Linked DNA regions of Homo sapiens. The protein of the gene in region 1 purifies or fractionates together with the protein of each later gene. This does not show direct contact. Each region holds a gene or a part of one and is shown in the gene's direction. Other genes may lie near its edges.

Evidence for each region.
Region 2: the proteins of BTLA (region 1) and MTHFD2L purify together in Homo sapiens (affinity purification with mass spectrometry; one large-scale study listed by BioGRID and IntAct). This does not show direct contact.
Region 3: the proteins of BTLA (region 1) and RPP30 purify together in Homo sapiens (affinity purification with mass spectrometry; one large-scale study listed by BioGRID and IntAct). This does not show direct contact.
Region 4: the proteins of BTLA (region 1) and ERVMER34-1 purify together in Homo sapiens (affinity purification with mass spectrometry; one large-scale study listed by BioGRID and IntAct). This does not show direct contact.
Region 5: the proteins of BTLA (region 1) and CTBS purify together in Homo sapiens (affinity purification with mass spectrometry; one large-scale study listed by BioGRID and IntAct). This does not show direct contact.
Region 6: the proteins of BTLA (region 1) and DDX19B purify together in Homo sapiens (affinity purification with mass spectrometry; one large-scale study listed by BioGRID and IntAct). This does not show direct contact.
Region 7: the proteins of BTLA (region 1) and ARSK purify together in Homo sapiens (affinity purification with mass spectrometry; one large-scale study listed by BioGRID and IntAct). This does not show direct contact.

The regions. Positions count from the first base shown.
Region 1 is NC_000003.12:112,478,973-112,482,472, reverse strand, and holds part of BTLA (B- and T-lymphocyte attenuator isoform 1 precursor), read left to right. Parts: intron 1-2,703; coding exon 2,704-3,018; intron 3,019-3,500. UniProt on the Homo sapiens protein: Inhibitory receptor on lymphocytes that negatively regulates antigen receptor signaling via PTPN6/SHP-1 and PTPN11/SHP-2. May interact in cis (on the same cell) or in trans (on other cells) with TNFRSF14.
Region 2 is NC_000004.12:74,199,618-74,203,117, forward strand, and holds part of MTHFD2L (bifunctional methylenetetrahydrofolate dehydrogenase/cyclohydrolase 2, mitochondrial), read left to right. Parts: intron 1-176; coding exon 177-329; intron 330-1,645; coding exon 1,646-1,753; intron 1,754-2,846; exon of another isoform or gene 2,847-3,016; intron 3,017-3,500. UniProt on the Homo sapiens protein: Bifunctional mitochondrial folate-interconverting enzyme that has both NAD/NADP-dependent methylenetetrahydrofolate dehydrogenase and methenyltetrahydrofolate cyclohydrolase activities.
Region 3 is NC_000010.11:90,881,974-90,885,473, forward strand, and holds part of RPP30 (ribonuclease P protein subunit p30), read left to right. Parts: intron 1-3,500. UniProt on the Homo sapiens protein: Component of ribonuclease P, a ribonucleoprotein complex that generates mature tRNA molecules by cleaving their 5'-ends. Also a component of the MRP ribonuclease complex, which cleaves pre-rRNA sequences.
Region 4 is NC_000004.12:52,742,053-52,745,239, reverse strand, and holds the end of ERVMER34-1 (endogenous retroviral envelope protein HEMO precursor), read left to right. Parts: coding exon 1-1,411; 3' UTR 1,412-2,687; downstream 2,688-3,187.
Region 5 is NC_000001.11:84,550,441-84,553,940, reverse strand, and holds part of CTBS (di-N-acetylchitobiase precursor), read left to right. Parts: 3' UTR 1-816; coding exon of another isoform or gene 817-906; 3' UTR 907-3,410; coding exon of another isoform or gene 3,411-3,500. Other genes in the region: SPATA1 (spermatogenesis-associated protein 1), read right to left, coding at 817-906, 3,411-3,500. UniProt on the Homo sapiens protein: Involved in the degradation of asparagine-linked glycoproteins. Hydrolyze of N-acetyl-beta-D-glucosamine (1-4)N-acetylglucosamine chitobiose core from the reducing end of the bond, it requires prior cleavage by glycosylasparaginase.
Region 6 is NC_000016.10:70,309,186-70,312,685, forward strand, and holds part of DDX19B (ATP-dependent RNA helicase DDX19B), read left to right. Parts: intron 1-3,423; coding exon 3,424-3,472; intron 3,473-3,500. UniProt on the Homo sapiens protein: ATP-dependent RNA helicase involved in mRNA export from the nucleus.
Region 7 is NC_000005.10:95,602,852-95,605,602, forward strand, and holds the end of ARSK (arylsulfatase K precursor), read left to right. Parts: intron 1-385; coding exon 386-675; 3' UTR 676-2,251; downstream 2,252-2,751. UniProt on the Homo sapiens protein: Catalyzes the hydrolysis of pseudosubstrates such as p-nitrocatechol sulfate and p-nitrophenyl sulfate. Catalyzes the hydrolysis of the 2-sulfate groups of the 2-O-sulfo-D-glucuronate residues of chondroitin sulfate, heparin and heparitin sulfate.

The DNA.
Region 1 (3,500 bases):
AAATAAGGTGAAACCTTGTTCTGGATAGACATGTATGAGAAACTCAGGGTCAAAATTTGCTCCTTGGTTCAACATCTGACAAGCTGTGTGATCACAGGCAAGGCCTTTAGCTGTCTTTGTATTTAAAAGAGAGTTTTGGCTATCATCTCTGTTACACTTATGTCATTCTAATGTATGATACTGTACATCTATTCAGAAGAATGCATGAAAATGAGTGAAATAAATAAATGAAGGAGATGAACTAGACATTGCTAAGAGAGACGGTAGTTCAAAACATAGAAAGAAAGGCTAAGAAAGAACTGTAAGAGTGGAGAAAAAAATAATTTAAAAGAAAATACTTTTAGGATCACGTGCTTAGCCTTAACTTTACTGGAAAATAAAAAAATACAAATCAACACCAAGTGCATAACTAAAAGGAAATGAGAAACAAGCCATTGGAAACTGGAGTAAAGGCCATTCTTGTCATACAGTTGCTAAGAACTTGGTGGAAATGTATCTATGTCTTAGGACTTTACGGAAAGCAGAAATTAAGAGCAATAATTCAGGATATCTGGTGGAAGAAATATCTAAGCCGCAAAGCATTTAGGCTGCTGTGTGGCTACTTTTAACTGCATACAGTAAGAGGCAGGAGGGAAAAAAATGACTTAAAAATGGAATTTATAATTAAAAGAGAAGCAGAATAGAAAGATTTGGAAAATTCACTGCCTAGCCATATAAAAAGTGAAAAGGCATGAATGGGAGAAAATACTAAGGGTGTGGCCTAGTGACCATTGTTAAAGAGATTAATATGGATAGAAGGGAGTGAAGTACTATTCAAGAAGTTGAGAAAAAGGCCCTGAAGGCATTTCAAAGCCTTTGAGGCTGCCCCTCCCATCATAGGCTCAGAGCTCAGAGGGCAAATTGATTTCAGGGGAAACTAGAATGCCCTTTACAGGCTTGCTGCCCAGATCTGCCTCAGGTTTCTGTTCTCTGAATTCCAGCACAGTGCTCCTTAGCTGCTCCAGCCATGGCTCAAGTGAGCCCAGGTGCAGTTCAACCCACCACTCCATAAGGTGCAATTGGTAAGCCTTGGTGGCACCCACTTGCTAAGTGTGCAGGCTAGCAGAATGCAAGAGGTGTGGAACACAACTTCCTCCATGTAGATTTCAAAGGATGTTGTGGACAGCCTGAGGGCCCAGGAAGAGTCCACTCCCATGTCAGTGCCTAGTAGAGCCATGGGAGTGGACTGCCACTGAGACCCCAGAACTGTGGAGCTATTAGCCTGAAGCATTAGCCTGGGAGAGCTGCAGGTAGGAGTCTCCAACTTGTGAGTGCTGAAGCATCAACCAAGCCCAGCAATGCCATTTTATTTCTCTGTTGGGTTTTGGACTTACTTAGGAACTGTTACTTTCTCATTTTTGCCTATTTCTCCCTTTTGGAATGGGAATATCTATCTTATATCTGTCCTACCACTATATTTTGGAAGTAGATAACTTGTTTTGATTTACATGATCATAGTTGGAGGGAATTTGCTTCATAATGAATCGTGCCTTGAATCTTACCCATATCTGGTTTAGATAAGACTCTGAATTTAGTGTTTTGAATTGATTCTGCAATAAATTAAAACTTTTGGGGCTATTGAGATGGAATGAATGTATTTTGTATGTGAAAAGAACATGAGTTTTGGGGGACCAGGGGCAGAATGCTATGGTTTGAATGCCCCCTCCAAAATTCATGTTGAAATTTTATTGCTATTGTAACAGTTTTGTGAGGTGGAACCTTTAAGAGATCAGAGGTTATGAATGTATTAATGCCCTTATTGTAGGAATGGATTCGTTATCACGGGAGTAGGCACCTGATAAAAGGATAAATTTTGGCCCCCATTTTTCTCTGTCTTGTGTGCTCCCTTCCACTTTCTGCTTTCTGCCATGAGATAATGCAGCACAAAGGCCTTTGCTAGATGCTGGCACCATGCTCTTGGACTTCCCAGCCTACAGAGCCATGAGCCAAATAAAACTTCTGTGATTCAAAAATTATCCAATCTCAGGTATTCTGTTATACTAGCAGAAAACAGACTAAGACAGTGTCTCATGTGTCCGTGTGTAGAGACCACCAAACAGGCTTTGTGTGAGCAACAAGGCTGTTTATTTCACCTTGCAGGCGGGCTGAGTCCAAAAAGAGAGTCAGCAAATGATGGTGAGATTATCATTAGTACTTATAGGTTTTGGGATAGGCAGTGGAGTTAAGAGCAATGTTTTGGGGGCAGGGGGTGGATCTCACAAAATACATTCTCAAGGGTGGGGAGAATTACAAAGAAACTTCTTAAGGGTGGGGGAGATTACAAAGTACATTGATCAGTTAGGGTGGGGAAGAAACAAATCACAATGGTGGAATGTCATCAGTTAAGGCTATTTTCACTTCTTTTGTGGATCTTCAGTTGCTTCAGGCCATCTGGATGTATACGTGCAGGTCACAGGGTATATGATGGCTTAGCTTGGGCTCAAAGGCCTGACAGACAGAGGATTAAATGATTTATTTCATTTTTTAAACATATTTATTATATGCCTAATATGTATGAGACATTCTGCTAGTAAGGCTTAATTACTAGAAATTGGGGGGTTGTTTTTGAAAATTACCAAATAATGCTTGAGAACTATTGAAGTCACATATATATGGTACTTCCAGAAGAACATATTTGATTTTAGTTTTGTTTTTATCTTTTAGGGAAAGAATCATGTGATGTACAGCTTTATATAAAGAGACAATCTGAACACTCCATCTTAGCAGGAGATCCCTTTGAACTAGAATGCCCTGTGAAATACTGTGCTAACAGGCCTCATGTGACTTGGTGCAAGCTCAATGGAACAACATGTGTAAAACTTGAAGATAGACAAACAAGTTGGAAGGAAGAGAAGAACATTTCATTTTTCATTCTACATTTTGAACCAGTGCTTCCTAATGACAATGGGTCATACCGCTGTTCTGCAAATTTTCAGTCTAATCTCATTGAAAGCCACTCAACAACTCTTTATGTGACAGGTGAGTTCTCAACACCTAGACCATCTGATATTTTTCTTATAATGTTTCCAGGAAGAGGGGGGTTCAGTTTCTCAAGTGATTATGTTAGAAAGCCAACTCCTATAGCACATCTGAAATCTGCTACACCTCACAGATTGTTATGTGCCAGTGTGTACATATGTGTGTGTATGTGTGCGTTTGAGGTGAGTGAGATAGAGGAGAGTAGAGAAATAGATAGTAAAAGTTATTGTTTTTGACTTTAGGGATTATAAAATTTATTTGATAAGTCCAAAAGTAGACCACTGAAATATTGAAAAAATTATAAAGTGAATACCTATAGTTGCGAATAGCTCTGTGATTGCTTGTCCTTCTTTGTTGTTTTTTTTTTCTCTTTTTCCCATTTTTCTCTTCTTTACTTTTGTTCATTACAATTTCTTGAAGTTATGTTTGTGGTGCTTAGGCAATTAAACACTTCTTAATAGTTCACAGTTTGTTTAGAGGAA
Region 2 (3,500 bases), on another chromosome or scaffold:
AGAGCACTTTGGCTTACTATTTTGGTGGCAAATAATAATAATAATAATAATAATGACTTTACACCTTTTTTAGAGCCGAATTATAAGTGATGTGGCTTTAGATTCTCAGATTTCATTTTTCAGGCTACCAAATAAATAACAATTTTAAAATTAGACAAATTTTATTTATTTTTCAGACCACGTTGATGAGCGAACAATATGCAATGGAATTGCCCCAGAAAAAGATGTAGATGGATTTCATATTATCAATATTGGAAGATTGTGCCTTGATCAGCATTCTCTCATACCTGCCACTGCCAGTGCTGTTTGGGAAATAATAAAAAGAACAGGTTGGTAATTTGTGGTCTGCAGGACATGGATGCTAGGTGCTGAGCTGAGCCTTTGTGCACTGAGACTTGATGGGACTACCTCAGTCCTATAGAGTGACAGAAAATCATAATCCATAAAACGTCAGTGTACAGAGAGATATAAAATTGTAGAAGTCAAAACATAATACAATCCTGGCTAACACAGTAAAACCCTGTCTCTACTAAAAATACAAAAAATTAGCCAGGTGTGGTGGCGGGCACCTGTAGTCCCAGCTACCTCGGAGGCTGAGGAAGGAGAATGGCATGAACCTGGGAGGCGGAGCTTGCAGTGAGCCGAGATCATGCCACTGCACTTCAGCCTGGGCGACAGAGCAAGACTCTGTCTCAAAAACAAAACAAAACAAACAAAACAAACAGAAAAAAAAATCCAAAATAAAATGAAACGAAGAGCATTAGCCAGATTATAGATAACTGCAGTTGCAACTTATAGGAAGTGAATTTTCCACATAGTAGTGGTATATGTCGGCCTTTAAAATGTAAACTTCATGCATTTTGATGAAAACTTTTCTAAAATATATTTTTCTGTACCTTTAAAAATATGTTCTGATCACATAGTTATCATTTCTATTGGCTTGGGTTTTAATTTTAAACATTTACCCTTGTACTGTACTGGATACGGTAATGCTCTCACAGACTCTTACAAAAGAAGTTTTCTTTCTGAGAAAGAAAAACTTCCAAGGGAAAACAGATCCTAGAATCATACTCCTACACTGTTAGTATTGGAAAATCCTTAGTTCTAACTTCTTTGCTTTACTTATGAAGAAACTGAGTCCAAAAGAAGTAGAAGGTTCTACAGGCTTTATTTTTTTACATCTTTCTAAGTCTGTAAGTTTAGTGCTTCTTTCCTATGGAGTAAAATGCATGAGCTTTGTGAAAAATGCCTCTTTTCTTACTTGTTTTGTTCCAGCGTTGCTCAAAATTTGATTGCCAATTAAGTTCGACATTGTTGTACTTTGCTTTTTTTATAAGCAGTTAATATATGTTAAAACTCTACTCTTCTAACTCTTAATGTGACTCTCAATGTTTAAAAGCAACTTAATGTCAACTTAAGAATGTCTGTGGTTTTTAATGAGTACATAATCAGAGAAGAAGTGACAAATCAAAGAAGCATAAAATGAATTATTTATAAATAATGAATGTGCTCATATTATAGATAAGCCACATAATAATTCAGATTTAATTAGAAATTTTTAAAAGAATGTTTCAGTTGGCTGTACAAATGTTTAATTTACTTCTTGTTGTCAATTCTGCATTTAAACCGAACTCTGTATTTTAAGGAATTCAAACATTTGGAAAAAATGTGGTTGTGGCTGGAAGATCCAAGAACGTAGGGATGCCTATTGCCATGCTTTTACACACTGATGGAGAGCATGAACGGCCAGGAGGTAGGTAGAACCTTGCAGATTCTACACTCTCTCGCAGTATTCTTACTTCTTACATCATCAAGTAAACACTTTTGATAATGCAGCTTATTATATTTGTGGGTTTATGCAGTTCAAAGTCTCCTTTATTCCTCATTTAGTGATGTGAGAGTCTTGAAAGTGACTGTAGGAATTACTGAAAATATGTGGCCATTTTCTCTATTTTTTTTTTTTTTGGCTATATGCACTTTGTTTAAATAATTAACAATTAGACATTAAGAAAGGTGCAAAGCTACTAGATACAAAAGATTCACATGCCCTCAGGAAATACAAAACAAGACATCTCTTGGATGTAGAATTCCTGTAGTGGCAAGGTCTTAGCACTTTAGAAATCAGCTAGTTAGTTTATTTTACAGACAAGAAAGCTGAGGCTTAGAGTTGTTATCTGATTATATAGGTTAAACAAATAGTCATTGTCCTATGAGTAGTAGTGACACTCCAAGTCACTGACAAAGCCCAGGAAGATGTGTTAGCCTTAGAGAACATGCAGCCATTCCAGGTGTTGGTCATCTGAACATCATCCCAAGACCTTGGTTTCTTCAGCAGTCTAATAGCTAGATACAGAATAGCTCCCCAGAAATTTGCAGGGGTCTGTCCCACAGACCCTGACCCAACGATGGATGAATAAAGTACACTGACACACAGATATTCTGCTTTACCAGTCCAGCTGAGCATCTGGGCCGCTTACAGACTCCACGCACAGTGCTGTAAACAGTTGCGACTATGGTCTCAATCAGTCAGCAAGACTTATGTTTATTCAGTAAAGATTAATTGACAAAGGCTTGGGTCAACACCACTAGAGTGTAATTGACATTGTGGACTTCCCAAGTAGAAAGCAATTAAGCACCCATGGTAGATCAAAGGTTAGTCTTAGGACCACACGAGTAAACAAGCTAGTTAGGTAAACTCTCCACATTCCTTTATTTCTACTCTAGTTTATTTAACTAAAGATAAGGGGACTAGGCTGCCTTCAGACTGATTTATTACTGAAGTTATGCAAACCCTCAGACCTTCCAACAAGGTTTGTGGCTATTAAAACTAAAATTTTTCCCACCAGCCTGACTGAACCACCACAGAAATGGAAATGGAGATGGAATGAAAAGGAAATACAGCAAAGGGGTGATGGGGCATTGTTCGTGGTTGTCTGAGCCAGTGCTGTGGGAGGAGGGCACAAGGGTTATTCAGCGTATCACTGTCTGCTAAATTCTGCATCTTGTTCTAATCTAGGTAAAACACCAAGTTTTCATGTTCTTAATAGAAGTAGTTATTGGTTTATCTATGTGTTAGAGACGTGTTGTACTTTGTTTACCATTTATTACTTCTAATCTTTCTCCCCCTAATTTTTGATACAGTACTTCATTGGTTTCTCTAATTCCAAAGAAGAGGATGGGCTACTTTGCTGCTTGCTTTCTAATATTTAACCAGAATGATAGACACCTATGTGCTCATCATGTACAGCACACGCACACATGCACACATGCATGCACACACACAGCATATATATATAGATTTCTTATTATTAACCTTGTTGAATTCGAGTTTCCTGATCTCAAACTTTCAATAATACTTGTTTTAGGATCTTGATTGACATGATACTTATGACATAATTTTTAAAACACAAAGCTCTATGGAAAAATAATCCCAGTATTAACTTATCTAAAATGATGAATGATGACACTTTTGAATAATATTTTCCCTTTCTATGCCTAAA
Region 3 (3,500 bases), on another chromosome or scaffold:
CAGAGTATCCGGAAGATGTCTCATAGAAACTCCCTCTCCATAGCTACTTAAGGAGATAAGGCAGAGATTAAAGATTTTGAGGGGGTCCATTGGTTAGGGCTCCTTGGGATGGGGGACAGCTGTGGAATATGACACAGAGAGAGAGTTGCATAGAAGCTTCTGGAGCTTCTGGACCAATTAATTATTCCCATTTAGGATTTAAAGCAGCTGAGCAGGTTGAGGAGAATTCAGGTTATTTAGTCCAGTGGTCTCTAACCTGCTTTGATTGTGCACCCTATCAGTTTAAAAAATTTTTGAGCCTGCTTCCAAATATATATATGTTTCTTATAAATTATTCGCATCTCTCATTATACCAGTGTGCCTTATAAAAACTACATACACACAAAACAGATCTTAAGATAGTGAATTAAAAATTAAATGGGCCAGGCATGGTGGCTCACGCCTGTAATCCTAGCACTTTGGGAGGCCGAGGCAGGCAGATCACGAGAGGCCATCCTGGCTAACACGGTGAAACCCCGACTCCACTAAAAATTCAAAAAATTAGCCAGGCATGGTGGCGGGCACCTGTAGTCCCAGCTACTCAGGAGGCTGAGGCAGGAGAATGGTGTGAACCCGGGAGACGGAGCTTGCAGTGAGCCAAGATTGCACCACAGCACTGCAACCTGGATGACAGAGCAAGACTCCGTCTCAAAGAAAAAAGTAAATGGAGGCTGGATCCAGTGCCTTGTGCCTGTAATTCCAGGACTTTGGGAGGCCGAGGCAGGATGACCACTTGAGGCCAGGAGTTCAAGACCAGCCTGGGCAACATAGTGAGACCCTGTCTCTATTTTTAAAAAATAAAAGTAAATGGAAATAAAAGTTTTATTTTCTTCCTGCTCCTGAAATTCATGCCTTTCCTTTGCAGAGGACTGTTGTAGTGTCTTGAGGAAGGGAGTGTCCTGGTGTTACTTGCAGTATGGTCTGGCTCCACTGGCTTTAGAATTACCTGGGATATTTATTAAAATGCAGATCATTAGGCCATACTTAATGAATCAATGGAGGTAGGGCCTGGTTGTCTCCATTTTTGATACATTCTTTAGGGGAGTTTTGTACACATTAAAGTTGAGTGCCACTGTTGATGGGCATCTCTCTTTTTCCTTGGTAAGCCTGATTGTCTCTTCACAATTTATCAAACTGATACCTTTGAAAGGGATTCAGGGAGGAATATGAACCCCTACAGTCCTATTCCTTTTGTGCCATAGAGGCAAAGATGTGTATATATGTGTGCATTTTTATGGGAATACGTTTTCTTTAAATTGTCATAGGAGTCTCTGGCCAAAAAAAAAAAAAAAAATTGGTATGGACAACTGATGTGAATTATTATGTAACCTACTAGTTTTCAGAGAAAACCATTATAAGATTCTTAACCCCAAGGCTCTATTGGGCATAATTTAATCTTCTAAAATGATATAGAAAGCGTTTCATTGTAGTGTGAACATTAACTTTTATTTTGTGGTTATCTAAAAGTATTGATTGAACATTTTGGTTAATAGAAAACTAAATAACAAAATAATTCAGTTTGGGGCATTCTAAGGTTGAAGTGTCAGAGGGAGCCATGTGGAGCTGTCCCTTGTAACTAAAAGTTTATTATAATGCATGTATTTGCACGTACTTAAACCAACATAGAGCCATTGTTTAATTGGCCACTCTTATGTAGGAAAAGGGAAGAAAGGAACAATGTGTAAGTAAAAAGTAACCTAATTTAGCTTTATTCTGGGGAGAATGTTTAACAGGCTTTTAAAGAATTAATCACCTTTTTAAACTGAAGAAATAATTTACATTCACAATGATTAATTTAAACAGTACAAAGGTACTGAAAAGTATGCCTTACTTCCACCTAAAATTCCTTCCCCATTTTTTCCAGAAGCAACCACTAGTAATAGTTTTTGTGTATCTTTTTAGAAATATTATTTACCTCGTCTTTTTTTCCTTTGTTCTCCCCTTTCTCCCTTCCTCTTTCCTTCCTACCTAACACCATGCTTCTTTTACCTTACAGTTTCTTAGAGGTTGTTCCATAATATCCATTAGAGATGTACATCATTTCCTTTAATGAGTTGGCATATTCCATCATATAAAGGGATCATAATTGAAGTAAAATTGAGGGATGTTTAATTGTGTCTAGTCTTTCATGATTGGTATTGCAATGACTGTCATTGTACTAATGTCCCCTGAGCCTTTGTAGGGTATATAGCTACGTAATATATTTTTAGAGTCTCTGCACTTATAGAGACTTCTCTATAGGAGACTCCACTTATACCTACTACATACCTATAAGTAGAATTGTTGGTGTGTGCATTTAAAATTTTGGTAGCCATTGCTAAAATGCTTTTCAAGACCTTATACTGATTTAAAGACCTTTTGAGTGCCTGTTCATTCATTCTCATGTCAGCAAGGTAGTACCAAACTTTTTTATCTTTGCCAGTATGATCGATAAAAAATGGTGAACAGAGCTGAATTTGTTTCAGCTATCATTCAGAGCTTTTCTTCATCCACTCTTATTAAATTTTCAGTGACTCTTTTATGAGTTGGACAGCTGTGGCAGTTGGGATGGGGCAGATTCTTTATGAGCCAAGTATTTCTGCCAAAACAACATTGCTTCCCAGGCTTACTAAGTTACTATGACTGTCTTAAAGCTAGCCAGCCTCTGATCTCTACTTCCTAAAGCCCTGGGGTTGGAGTAGGAGTGACTGAAGTGGGGATTCTGAAGAAAAAGGGCAAGATACGGTATTCCTGTCATTGCCGAAGGTTGGCACCAATCCTATAGGTCATTTTCTCCACTCTTCCTTACTCTGCCCTTTCCCCTGGTACATGCCACTGATGTTGTTTGTCAGCGTAGCCATCCTGGAAGTTTGAATTTGTCTGTCAAGCCTGTACACACTAGCATTGTCAGTAAGCTTTGTTTTTAATGTAATACATAACAGCCAAATATTTTTATCACTATAAATCAAATAATGGCAAAATCAGAGCCAGGTATGTTTCTTCCAGCAGTGTCTTCTGGCTTGCCCTCTACACTAGTAACCTTTTCCCAGCTTTATTTTTCTTCCCTGATTTTCCATTTATCCTGATTTTCTTATCTGTTTATTTTATCTTGTATGTGGTTTTCATAAACAGTTTCAAATCTCTTTGAGAAGAAAATGCAGAGTATTACTCAACAAGTCATAGCAAAAATTAAAACAACAGAAAGGGAAATTAAAAGTTGAGAAAATGCATTCATTATCATTTGCTTTGTAGTAGCTCTGCTTTAACTATTTATGTAGATTCCTTCTATTAGTATTTGAACAAATGTCATGAGGTGCTGTGTTCATATTTCTTTAGCTACTCAGTAGACTTGATAGGAGCCACAGCCCTGGGACAATTCTTGGCACAGAGTTGCTCAATAAATAGTGTGTGGGATAAATGGACTATGCATACATTCCATTTGGCTTATTTTTTCCTTGGGTTTTAGAATAGTCAGTTTCTTC
Region 4 (3,187 bases), on another chromosome or scaffold:
CTATCGTAAAGTGACTTGGCACTGGGAAGCCTCCATGGAAGCTCAAGGTCTATCCTTTGCTCAAGTAAGGTTATTGGAGGGAAATTTTTCTCTTTGCGTAGAAAATAAAAATGGCAGTGGACCCTTCCTAGGTAATATACCTAAACAATACTGTAATCAAATACTATGGTTTGATTCTACAGATGGCACCTTCATGCCCTCTATAGATGTTACAAATGAATCCAGGAACGATGATGATGATACAAGTGTTTGCCTAGGCACTAGACAATGTTCCTGGTTTGCAGGTTGCACAAACCGGACCTGGAACAGCTCAGCTGTTCCCTTGATTGGTCTGCCCAATACCCAAGACTACAAATGGGTAGATCGAAATTCTGGATTGACCTGGTCAGGTAATGACACCTGTCTCTATAGCTGCCAAAACCAAACCAAAGGCCTTCTGTACCAGCTATTTCGCAACCTATTTTGCTCTTATGGCCTGACAGAGGCACATGGGAAATGGAGATGTGCAGATGCCAGCATAACTAATGACAAAGGTCATGATGGACACCGGACCCCCACCTGGTGGCTCACAGGTTCCAATCTGACCTTGTCTGTGAACAACTCTGGCCTCTTTTTTTTGTGCGGCAATGGGGTGTACAAAGGGTTTCCACCTAAATGGTCTGGGCGATGTGGACTTGGGTATCTTGTACCTTCCCTCACCAGATACCTCACCTTAAATGCTAGCCAAATTACAAACCTGAGATCCTTCATTCATAAAGTAACACCGCATAGATGCACCCAAGGAGACACAGACAATCCACCTCTGTATTGCAACCCCAAGGACAATTCAACAATAAGGGCCCTTTTTCCAAGTTTGGGAACTTATGATTTAGAAAAGGCAATTCTAAACATTTCCAAAGCAATGGAACAGGAATTCAGTGCCACTAAGCAGACCTTGGAAGCACACCAATCAAAAGTTAGCAGTTTAGCCTCTGCATCCCGAAAGGATCATGTCTTGGATATACCGACCACCCAACGACAAACGGCTTGTGGAACTGTTGGCAAACAGTGTTGCCTCTATATAAATTATTCGGAAGAAATAAAGTCTAATATACAGCGTCTCCACGAAGCATCCGAGAACCTGAAGAATGTACCGTTACTTGATTGGCAAGGCATATTTGCAAAAGTGGGAGACTGGTTCAGATCATGGGGCTATGTGCTTTTAATTGTTCTTTTCTGCTTATTCATCTTTGTTTTAATCTATGTTCGTGTCTTTCGCAAATCTCGCAGATCCCTTAACTCCCAACCTCTGAACCTAGCCTTATCTCCACAGCAATCAGCACAGCTCCTTGTCAGTGAAACTTCATGTCAAGTTTCAAATAGGGCAATGAAGGGACTAACAACCCATCAATATGACACAAGTCTACTTTGAGAATATCTGAACAAACAGCAGCTGCAGACAAAAAGCCTTAGCTAAACTTTGATGAGTAAAGCAGGTCTTACCGAGAATTCAGCTGCCAAAACCCTCCTCTGAGTGTTCCTCTTATAAGGGCACTTAGCACTAGGACCTCCCAAGGTATTGTAAATAAGCCTTATCAGAACTTTTTGTAGTTTCATTCTGAAGCCTTAAGACACACACCATAAAGCTGATCTGTAAACCCTTACCCCTTGCTGTTCAGAGAGCTACTCTTTGTAGTGTTCTTGCATGCATATATAATAAATGTTTTTTCTATTGATCTGTTAATTTGCAAGCCCCCAAACACTGGAACTAAGTTGGGGGCAGGATAGTTTCTCCCAACAGCACTTTGTAGGCTTCTGGATAGACCAAAGAGTGTGTTTGAATAGATAAGGGAATTTTGTTCCCTTGATTTTGGTTGAAGGTAGAAGAATCCAATGTACACATACACAAAACTATGTCCTTAAATTTGTCTCAAAGAATAAATATTGGGTAGTCATCAGAATTGACTGAAAACTTACTTTAGGGAGAAAGCCACAAATAATTTAGGCTGGTATGATCTGAGCTTTCCTGATTTCCCATGGGCATTTTAGTGGTCTAATGGAATATTAGTCTGATATGCATTTTAGCCATCTTATGAAATGGGCCGCAGGTGGAAGTAGGATGCAGGGAGTGTTGAGGTGGCATCTATTATATCAAATGCTTCACTCTGCCCAGTCCTCTGGTGAGTTCCTTACATGCATCTTTCTAGTTAATCCTCTCGGTGTTCATATTTTACAGATTAATCAACTCAAAGGGTAGATAGCTTGCTAAAGATTATACTATTACTGAAAAATAGCAAGATGCAGAACAGCATACCTAGTATGTTACTCTTTTTTTTTTTTTTTTGAGGCAGAGTCTGGCCCTTTCACCCAGGCTGGAGTGCAGTGGCTCAATCTCGGCTCACTGCAACCTCTGCCCCCTTGGGTTCATGCCATTCTCCTGCCTCCCTCCTGAGTAGCTGGGACTACAGGCGCCTGCCACCACGCCTGACTAATTTTTTGTGTTTTTAGTAGAGACGGGGTTTCACCGTGTTAGCCAGGATGGTCTCAGTCTCCTGACCTCATGACCCGCCCACCTCAACCTCCCAAAGTCCTAGGATTATAGGTGTGAGCCACTGCACCCAGCCTCGTATGTTACTTTTTATTTTAAAAAAGGGGAAATGATATGTATATGTGTATGTATTTGCAAATAAAACAGGAAAAGCCATTCACAATTGAAAGTGATTCACATGTAAGAGGAATGGACTGTGAGATTCTCACCTCCTTTTTAAGGTTGCACATAAACAAATTTATGAACATAGCAGATTGATAATTTATTAACAGAATAATCATTTCAAGTTACATTAAGAAAACATGGATGGCTGGGCACGGTGGCTCACGCCTGTAATCCCAGCACTTTGGGAGGCCAAGGTGGGCAGATCACGAGGTCAAGAGATCAAGACCATCCTGGCCAACATGGTGAAACCCCATCTCTACCAAAAGTACAAAAATTAGCTGGGCATGGTGGCAGGCACCTGTAGTCCCAGCCACTCAGGAGGCTGAGGCAGGAGGATCGCTTGAACCCAGGAAGCGGAGGTTGCGGTGAGCTGAGATCGCACCACTGTATTCCAGCCTGGCAACAGAGTGAGATTCTGTGGCAAAAAAAAAAAAAAAAAAAAAAAAAAGCACAGACTGGGTGTGGTGGCTCATGCCTGTAATTCCAGCACTTTGC
Region 5 (3,500 bases), on another chromosome or scaffold:
ATTTTATACAAATAAGTTTTCTAAATGTAATAAAGTCTGTTTTCTTTCTCCAGGGAATTAAGAACAACATTGTGCTGCCCTTATTAGTTCCTAATTACAGATTAAAAATCTGTATCTTTGAACTCTAGATTTACATAAATCCTGGCTTCCCTGCACATTTTGCCCCTGTAAATTGGAATACATGATGATTGAACCATCTGTTATGAGAATATTACATTTCCTATTTACACAATTGTTTGTGACAGAGTAAAAACCATTTTCATAGTATATGTTGGATCACTGTTGTCTTCATATTTCTAAAATAAATGAATTAAAAAATTTAAATTCTTAGATGCTTATCTCTATCATAGCTCAGAATGCAACTTCAATACCCCCATTCTTTTATATTTCCAGATTTCTTTTAATTAAGATATAATGAACAAATTAAGTTAAATGAAGTCTGTATTTTCATGCAAATATATTAGTATTCATTAATATACATTTATTCTTTGCAAATAGATTTTAGTTATATTAGCTCTTAAATTGTTAAATAAATTATTATTGAATTTTATTATTAAATTATTAAAATGAAAATTATAAAATTAGCACTGTAAAATAATATGTAAAGGACTTGGAATGTTAAAAATAACCATTCATCATTTTGCTTTATATTACATCTAATATTTCCTGAAACATTTTGTAATACCCACATGGAAAGTGGAGAAAGAGAAACCTTGTGCTTTTTATAAAACATTGCCAAGGAGAATAATGGTTAAACAAATCTGTTCAAATACATATTTAAATTTTTTTACAAATAAAAGTTTTAAATTAACATACCTAATTGAGATTGTAGAGATGTATTATTTTTTTTTTCTGTGCCAGTTCAGTTTTCAATGTTCGTAAATCTGAAACTGCTTGTTTTCTCATCTATAAAAAGAATTACTTTTCAAAAATGAACTTCATCATACCCTTCTAAAAGTACATCATAGTTGTCATGTAAACAGGGTTTTTGTAACCGCTTTAACTGTCTTCTCTCATTTGGCTTCAGTGCTTTCAACTCCCACTGGATTACTACAGTAAATGTGTAGATTATGAATGCTGTTTAATAAGCATGCTTATCTACTGGTGAGATATGCTATAAGGTAACCTTGTTTATGAGTAGATAGGGACAATACAATTGAACTGTTCTAAAAACTAGAGTGAGAAAGAATTTTATGTTTTGCTTAAACTTCAAAACCTGTTGTTCTCAATGTGTAAAGAAAATAGTGAAAACAACAAGAAAACAAAATACAAAAAAAACCCTTAATTCCTAGCCCTTAGGAACGGAATAGATATTTCAGAAATATAGTGTTTACTCTGTGGCAAGCACTCTTCTAAGTGTATTAGTCTCTTATTTTTTTTTCAAAAATTTTACAGAATCAGATACTAGTATTTATCCCCATTTTACAGTTGAAATGGAGACCTTTAGAGGCTAAGTAACTTGCTCAAGATAAAAAACTAGTAAGTGAAGTGGGTACAGCCAGGATTCAAATTCAAACCACCTGGTACCAGAGCCCTTACTATTCCAAGTGTTGTCTGTGGACAGCAGCATTAGCATCAGTTGGGAGCTTGTTAGGTAGGAAGAATCTCAGGCTGCACCCAGACCTACTGAGTCAGATCCTGCATTTTTAAACAGGATCCTCAGATGATATATTAAACTTTGAGAAGCACTACTTATGCTATACTATCTTGAATAAATATGGTTGCAAGAGACTCAGGCTGGGTTTTTTTTGTCCCTTAGTTCTGAATCTTATAGGTAGTGCTGTTTTGGGGAGATCATTCAGAAATCAATAAAACTTCTTAAATAATGTCTGTTATGTGTCAATCAGGCACTATGGTTAAATACAGGATTTTTTCCCCCCAGCCTATAAGCTGAAAACTTTGTTCTCTTTTTTTCCTCTTATTCCACTTGTCCTTACTGTTTTTGTATGAACAATTCTAATTTGAGTTCAAACCATGAGTGACATTTGTAATGTTAAAATATACAAAGATTACAAGTAATGTGCATGCTTTCCAGAAGAAAACAGCATGAGGGGAGTCATAATCCAAGCCTCTGGGGGCATTTTTATTACTCCTTCCTACCTACCCAATTATTAAGTGTACAAGTTTACATATTGGCTTTATCTCCATATATTGAATAGACAGTTTTCCTTCATTGAACAAATTATTTTTTGAGTGCATATTTAACTGATATTTTGTTAAAAATTATCCTCTGCTCTTTTCCTTTTCTATTTTAAGTTTTAAGCTTCTCAGTGCCAAACCAGGGCTTATTTAGCCTCGAGAATGCTGCTTGTAAAAAGAATCTAGAACTGCACTGTCCAGTATAGTAGAAGCCAGTTGCCATATGTAACTACTAAACTTAAATTAACTAAAATTAAATAAAATTTAAAATTCAGTTCCTCAGTCACACAAACTACATTTCAAGTGCTCAATATCAATAGGTGGCTAGTGGGTACCAATCTGACAGTGCAGGCATAGAACATTTCTATCATCACATAAGTTCTGTTGGACAGTGCTAATTCTATTTTTTTATTTTTAAATTTTATTTATTTTTATTTTTATCTGAAACCGAGGACAGTACTGATTTTCTTTTTTCTTTTTAAAATTTTTTTAAAAAGAGCTAATTCTAGAATGCAGTCATTATTCTGTGTCATAAAGCTGTTTCTGATAAAGAAATGAGAGCATTCATATAATTATCGTTCTCATTTTCCTGCCTTGCTGTGGGTACTTGTATGAAAATGTATAATCTTCTGTTTTCTGTTCAACAAAAAAGCTTTTTAATACATATGTACTTCACAGATAATTTCTATGATGTAATTAGTTGTACACAATTCTCACCAAATAGAGCATGCCCAGAAGCCTCTACTAAGCATCTGCTATACAAAAGGTCCCATGGGAGAAACAAAGTTAACTAAGGCATAGTCTCTGCCAGGAAGGAAACTTAACATCTAGTAGAAGACACATTATTCATATTTAAATAATAGAATACATATGAAAATAACCAGAAAAAATGAAACGATTACCCATAAAAAATTAAATGTCAGTTCAGAGGAGAGCTCAGTGGTTTATCAGACTTAATAATTCTAATACAGGAAAACTACTTAAAATTTTTTTTGAGAATATATTGACTCACAGGTTCCTTTTCCTTTAATTCTTCCTAGTAAAATTTTACTAAATTTTACTTTGGCTTTATTATATCATGTATCTTTTCACAGGTTTAGTTTTTCTTCCTGCATTTTTTTTTTCACCTATGCTCTTTACTGTTAAGGTAACAATTTTAATACAGTCAATCCTGGCTACCCTTATATTATTGACACCCAAAGTTAAAACACCAAAATATTTTATTTCAAGATAAATGTTATAATAATCTGATTAGGAAAAATGTAAATTACCTTAACTTCTACTATGAGTTTCATTTTGTCAGTATCTAGTTTTCTCTTAAGCTGGTCAATTGCATGCTGTACCTCAGTGATCTGGATTAT
Region 6 (3,500 bases), on another chromosome or scaffold:
TTGTCCATTTCCATGAATAGAAATGGGAGGCTGGGCGCGGTGGCTTATGCCTGTAATCCCAGCACTTCGGGAGGCCGAGGCGGGCAGATCACGAGGTCAGGAGATCGAGACCATCCTGGCTAACACGGTGAAACCCCGTCTCTACTAAAAATATAAAAAGTTAGTCGGGCATGGTGGCAGGCGCCTGTAGTCCCAGCTACTCCGGAGGCTGAGGCAGGAGAATGGCGTGAACCTGGGAGGCAGAGCTTGCAGTGAGCCAAGATCACGCCACTGCACTTCAGCCTGGGCGACAGAGCGAGACTCCATCTCAAAAAACAAAACAAACAAACAAACAAAAAGAAATGGGGCTCCTGGCTGGGTGCAGTGGCTTACGCCTGTAATCCCAGCACTTTGGGAGGCCGAGGCGGGTGGATCACGAGGTCGAGAGTTCGAGACCAGCCTGACCAACATAGTGAAACCCCGTCTCTACTAAAAATTCAAAAATTAGCTGTGCGTAGTTGCACACGCCTGTAATCCCAGCTACTTGGGAGGCTGGGGTAGGAGAATTGCTTGAACCCAGGAGGCGGAGGTTGCAGTGAGCCAAGATCGTACCACTGCATTCTAGCCTGGGCGACAGGGCAAGACTCCGTCTCAAAAAAAAAAAAAAAAAAAAAGAGAAATAGAAATGGGGCTCCTCCATTCTCAACAAACCACCAATTAAAACATTTTTTTGTTCTCTCCTCTCTACCCTCCTTCCCCTTTCGCCTGTTCTTGGACTTAGAGGGACAACAGAAATGCGGCCTAATGCGTAGTTCACACTTATAATTCTAGCACTTTGGGAGGCTGAGGCAGGAGGATCGCTTGAGCCCAGGAGCTCAAGACCAGCCTGAGCAACACAGTAAGATCCCAACTCTACAATAAAAGATTAGCTGGGCAGGCTGGGCGCAGTGGCTCATGCCTGTAATCCCAGCACTTTAGGAGGCCAAGGTGGGCGGATCATGAGGTCAAGAGATTGAGACCATCCTGGCCAATGTGGTGAAACCCTGTCTCTATTAAAAATACAAAAATTAGCTGGGCATGGTGGTGCATGCCTGTAGTCTCAGCTACTTGGGAGGCTGAAGCAGGAGAATCGTTTGAACCCAGGAGGCGGAGGTTGCAGTGATCTGAGATAACACCACTGCACTCCATCCTGGCAACAGAGCAAGACTCCGCCTCAAAAAAAAAAAATTAGCTGGACATGGTGGTGAGTGCCTGTAGTCTCAGCTACTTGGGAGGCTAAGGCAGGAGGATTGCCTGAGCCTTAGGAGGTTGAGGCTTCAATGAGCCATGATCATGCCACTGCACCACTCCAGCCTGGCCAACAGAGTGAGACCTCGTCTGCAGAAAAAAAAGAAAGAACCATTAGGTTGTGATTTTCATTTTCTTTTTACTAGATGATGTCTTAGGCCCTGCTTGATATTTTATGATTAGGGTTGGCTTTAGCTTGAAAGGTTACTTACTCACGCCAGACTTTCCATCTATCTAATCCCTGTGCTGGGGTCCAAGACTTACAGATGCTTTCTGACCTTTAAAAAAGTCTTTTTTGGCCAGGTGCGGTGGCTCATGCCTGTAATCCCAGCACTTTGGGAGGCCGAGGCAGGGAGATCACGAGGTCAGGAGATTGAGAACATCCTGGCTAACATGATGAAACCCTGCCTCTACTAAAAATACAAAAAAATTAGCTGGGGGTGGTAGCGGACGCCTGTAGTCCCAGCTACTCCGGAGGCTGAGGCAGGAGAATGGCATGAACCCGGGAGGCGGAGCTTACAGTGAGCTGAGATCAGGCCACTGCACTCCAGCCTGGGCAACAGAGCGAGACTCTGTCTCAAAAAAAAAAAAAAGGCTTTTTTGTTTTGTTTTGTTTTTAATAAAAATGTACGACTAGAAAGGCCGGGCGTGGCAGCTCATATCTGTAATCCCAGCACTTTGGGAGGCTGAGGCAGGCGGATCACGAGGTCAGGAGATCAAGACCATCCTGGCTAACACCGTGAAACCCCATCTCTTAAAAAAAAAGAAAATACAAAAAATTAGCCGGGCGTGGTGGCGGGCGCCTGTAGTCTCAGCTGCTCGGGAGGCTGAGGCAGTAGAATGGCGTGAACCCGGAAGGCAGAGCTTGCAGTGAGCTGAGATCGCGCCCCTACACTCCAGTCCAGGTGACAGAGCAAGACTCTGTCTCAAAAAACAAACAAACAAAAAATTTACGACTAGAGCACTTACTTTGCTCTGTACTACATCCAAAGGCCAAAAATAGAAATATGCTACTCTGGGCACATTTCCTGTGGGGTAGCCCTGCTCCTCAAGGAGCAGTAGAAAACGAAATAGGCCCTGTCAGGAAGGTATTTGCATTCTAATAGAGGAGATAAGACCTGCTAGGATATCCCTAATATACAGTATTTGATCAAAGTCTTAGTAATTATTCTTTGAAATGTCTCTTTCCTTTCTATTTCCACTTCAGCCCAGTGGGTATTTTAATTACACAGTGTGCCACAATGCTTCAGGCTGTTCCCAACTACAGTATCAGACACCAGCAAAAGGTGACTTGAATGTGAGGCTGCACATCAGCATACTGTGGTCTTACGGCTCTAACGTATCCTGCAGTATGACTGATTCCTACCCACAGATGCTTTTCTTTTCTTTTCTTTTCTTTTTTTTTTTGTGAGACGGAGTTTCACTCTGTTGCCAGGCTGGGGTGTAGTGGCGTGATCTTGGCTCACTGCAACCTCCGCCTCCTGGGTTCAAGCGATTCTCCTGCCTCAGCCTCCCAAGTAGCTGGCACTACAGGCATGCACCGCCACGCCCAGCTAATTTTTGTATTTTTGGTAGAGACGGGGTTTCACCATGTTGGCCAGGATGGTCTCGATCTCTTGACCTCGTGATCTGCCTGCCTGAGCCTCCCAAAGTGTTGGGATTACAGGCGCGAGCCACCGCACCTGGCTTTACAGATGCTTTTCATCACAGTCCTCCCTTCCCAGTGTTCTCCAAAGTATGACTGCATTTTTCAAAATCTCTTTAAATTTCCTCTTGTTTGAAATATGATTTGGAATGCAGCGATTCCCCCCCACACACAAAAGAAATATGAGAGAATGACAACTCTAATGATATTCTACAAAGAGAGAAAGTTTATAATCAGGGCATTAAGCAAACTCACAAATTACAATTCTCTCACAGAATTTTAAGTAGAAGGTACAGATTTGGAGCATTTTTTTCCACCGATGTATTTACGGGAAATTTTGTTTATTCTCATCAGACATTTAGTAAACGGAACAACCCAATGAATTGGTCCTAATGAATATACCTTGAGAATGGCTATTTTATCCCCAGCTTCATTAGGGAGGCTCTGTTGATTCCAAATCTTTTTAAGTGCTTTTCCTGACACTTTCCCCCTCCCCCATATTCTCCATTTAGTTGAGCAACTTGCATCTTAAGGAAGAGAAAATCAAACCAGATACCAATGGTAAGTAACTAATAGCTAGTTTGAAAAC
Region 7 (2,751 bases), on another chromosome or scaffold:
AAAGTTTGAGGCTGTTAAAATGGTACAGTATAAGCATTACTGTATTCATTTCTGCCTGTCAAAGTAGGCAGGACATCAAAAACAGGAAGAACTTGTTCTAAACCAGCTTACTAATGATAAAAGTTTGACTTTTTCTGGCATTTAAGAAAAGAAAAAAAAAGTGGGATAGCTGGACAATGGTAGGAAGGAGGGAATTTGGGCATGCAACATAGGGTGTTTAACTCCTGGTATGTTATTTTACCATTTATACTGTCCTTCATTTTACTACACTAACAGGAACTGAAAATCTAAAAAAAAAATCTAATACATTACCTGTCATAATGACATTCTAAAAAAATTTTTAGCAGGTCACTATTTTGACAGATACTTATTTTTTTTCTTTCAGATCTTTCCTCGGATCCAGATGAATTAACAAATGTTGCTGTAAAATTTCCAGAAATTACTTATTCTTTGGATCAGAAGCTTCATTCCATTATAAACTACCCTAAAGTTTCTGCTTCTGTCCACCAGTATAATAAAGAGCAGTTTATCAAGTGGAAACAAAGTATAGGACAGAATTATTCAAACGTTATAGCAAATCTTAGGTGGCACCAAGACTGGCAGAAGGAACCAAGGAAGTATGAAAATGCAATTGATCAGTGGCTTAAAACCCATATGAATCCAAGAGCAGTTTGAACAAAAAGTTTAAAAATAGTGTTCTAGAGATACATATAAATATATTACAAGATCATAATTATGTATTTTAAATGAAACAGTTTTAATAATTACCAAGTTTTGGCCGGGCACAGTGGCTCACACCTGTAATCCCAGGACTTTGGGAGGCTGAGGAAAGCAGATCACAAGGTCAAGAGATTGAGACCATCCTGGCCAACATGGTGAAACCCTGTCTCTACTAAAAATACAAAAATTAGCTGGGCGCGGTGGTGCACACCTATAGTCTCAGCTACTCAGAGGCTGAGGCAGGAGGATCGCTTGAACCCGGGAGGCAGCAGTTGCAGTGAGCTGAGATTGCGCCACTGTACTCCAGCCTGGCAACAGAGTGAGACTGTGTCGCAAAAAAATAAAAATAAAATAATAATAATTACCAATTTTTCATTATTTTGTAAGAATGTAGTGTATTTTAAGATAAAATGCCAATGATTATAAAATCACATATTTTCAAAAATGGTTATTATTTAGGCCTTTGTACAATTTCTAACAATTTAGTGGAAGTATCAAAAGAATTGAAGCAAATACTGTAACAGTTATGTTCCTTTAAATAATAGAGAATATAAAATATTGTAATAATATGTATCATAAAATAGTTGTATGTGAGCATTTGATGGTGCTCGATGAGTTACTTGTATTTGATGGGATTGTTTGGATGTATTTAATGGGAGTATTTGGAGTATTTAACGGGATGTAAACCCTGGATGTACCTGATTTTGTTACTGTTTTATTTTAATAGGTAATATATATACAGGGTAAAAGCTTCAAATGGTACAAAAGGGTTAACAGTGATCGTGAAGTCTCTGTCCTTTCCCTCTTCCCTGCCATCCAGTTCCCCCTCCAAGAAGCAAGTACCGAAACCACCTGCTTACGCATTTTTAGAGATTGGCCACAAATTTATAAACAAATGTATATATTCCTTTCCCCCTACACAAACGGTAACATACTGCACACATTGTTCTGCATGTTGCTTCTTTTTCCTTTTTTTTTTCACTTAACAGTAGATATCTAGAGGTGAAATTACTGAGTCAAGACTATATTTAGCAAAATTACACTAGATACTACAAATTACCTCTAAAGAAGGTATACTAACTGATAATCTCACCATCAATGCATGTCTTCTTATCCTTTGCCAACCTAACAGATAAAAATGTTCTATTTTTATTTTTCTTTTTATGAGTAACGTAGAGCATATTTTCATGTATTTAACAGCCACTGGAATCTGCTTTACCATGGCCTTTCCTATTTCTATTCTTTGCCTATTTTTCTGTTGGTTGTTGGTCTTTGTTTTGTATTACAGGTGTGCTTTAGATATTAGCTTTTTGTAAGAGATCCTGCAAATATCTTCTTTCCAGTTTGTCATTGTCATTTGTCTTTTGACTTTGTTCTGGTATTTTTTGATATGTAGAAATTTTTATTTTCATGTAAGCAAATTTATGAATCTTTGTACACCATAAGTATATACAATTATGATTTGTCAATTAAAAATATTAGTACAAAATTTACAGATCTTTGCTTTTGTGGCTTTTGGGATTTTGTATCATATTTAGAATGGCCTTCTCCACTTGTCATTTTTTTTTTTGAGACGGAGTCTCGCTCTGTCACCCAGACTGGAGTGCAATGGTGCAATCCCGGTTTCAAGTGATTCTCCTGCCTCAGCCTCCCAAGTAGCTGGATTACAGGCACCCGCCACCACACCCAGCTAATTTTTTGTATTTTTAGTAGAGATGGGGTTTCACCGTGTTAGCCAGGATGGTCTTGATCTCCTGACCTGGTGATCTGCCCACCTAGGCCTCCCAAAGTGCTGGGATTACAGGCGTGAGCCACTGCGCCTGGCCTCCACTTGTCTTCTTTTATAATTTTATTTTTCACCTTTGGATCTTTGACCCAGCTGGAATGTATTAAACATATTAGAAATCTAACTTTGGTTGTTTTTTTAAATATGCCTACCCATTGATCTTTTATTGAGTAAACTGTCTCTTCTCCCATTCGTAAAAATGTCACTTCATCATATAATACCTTTGGTTGAGTACATTATCTTTT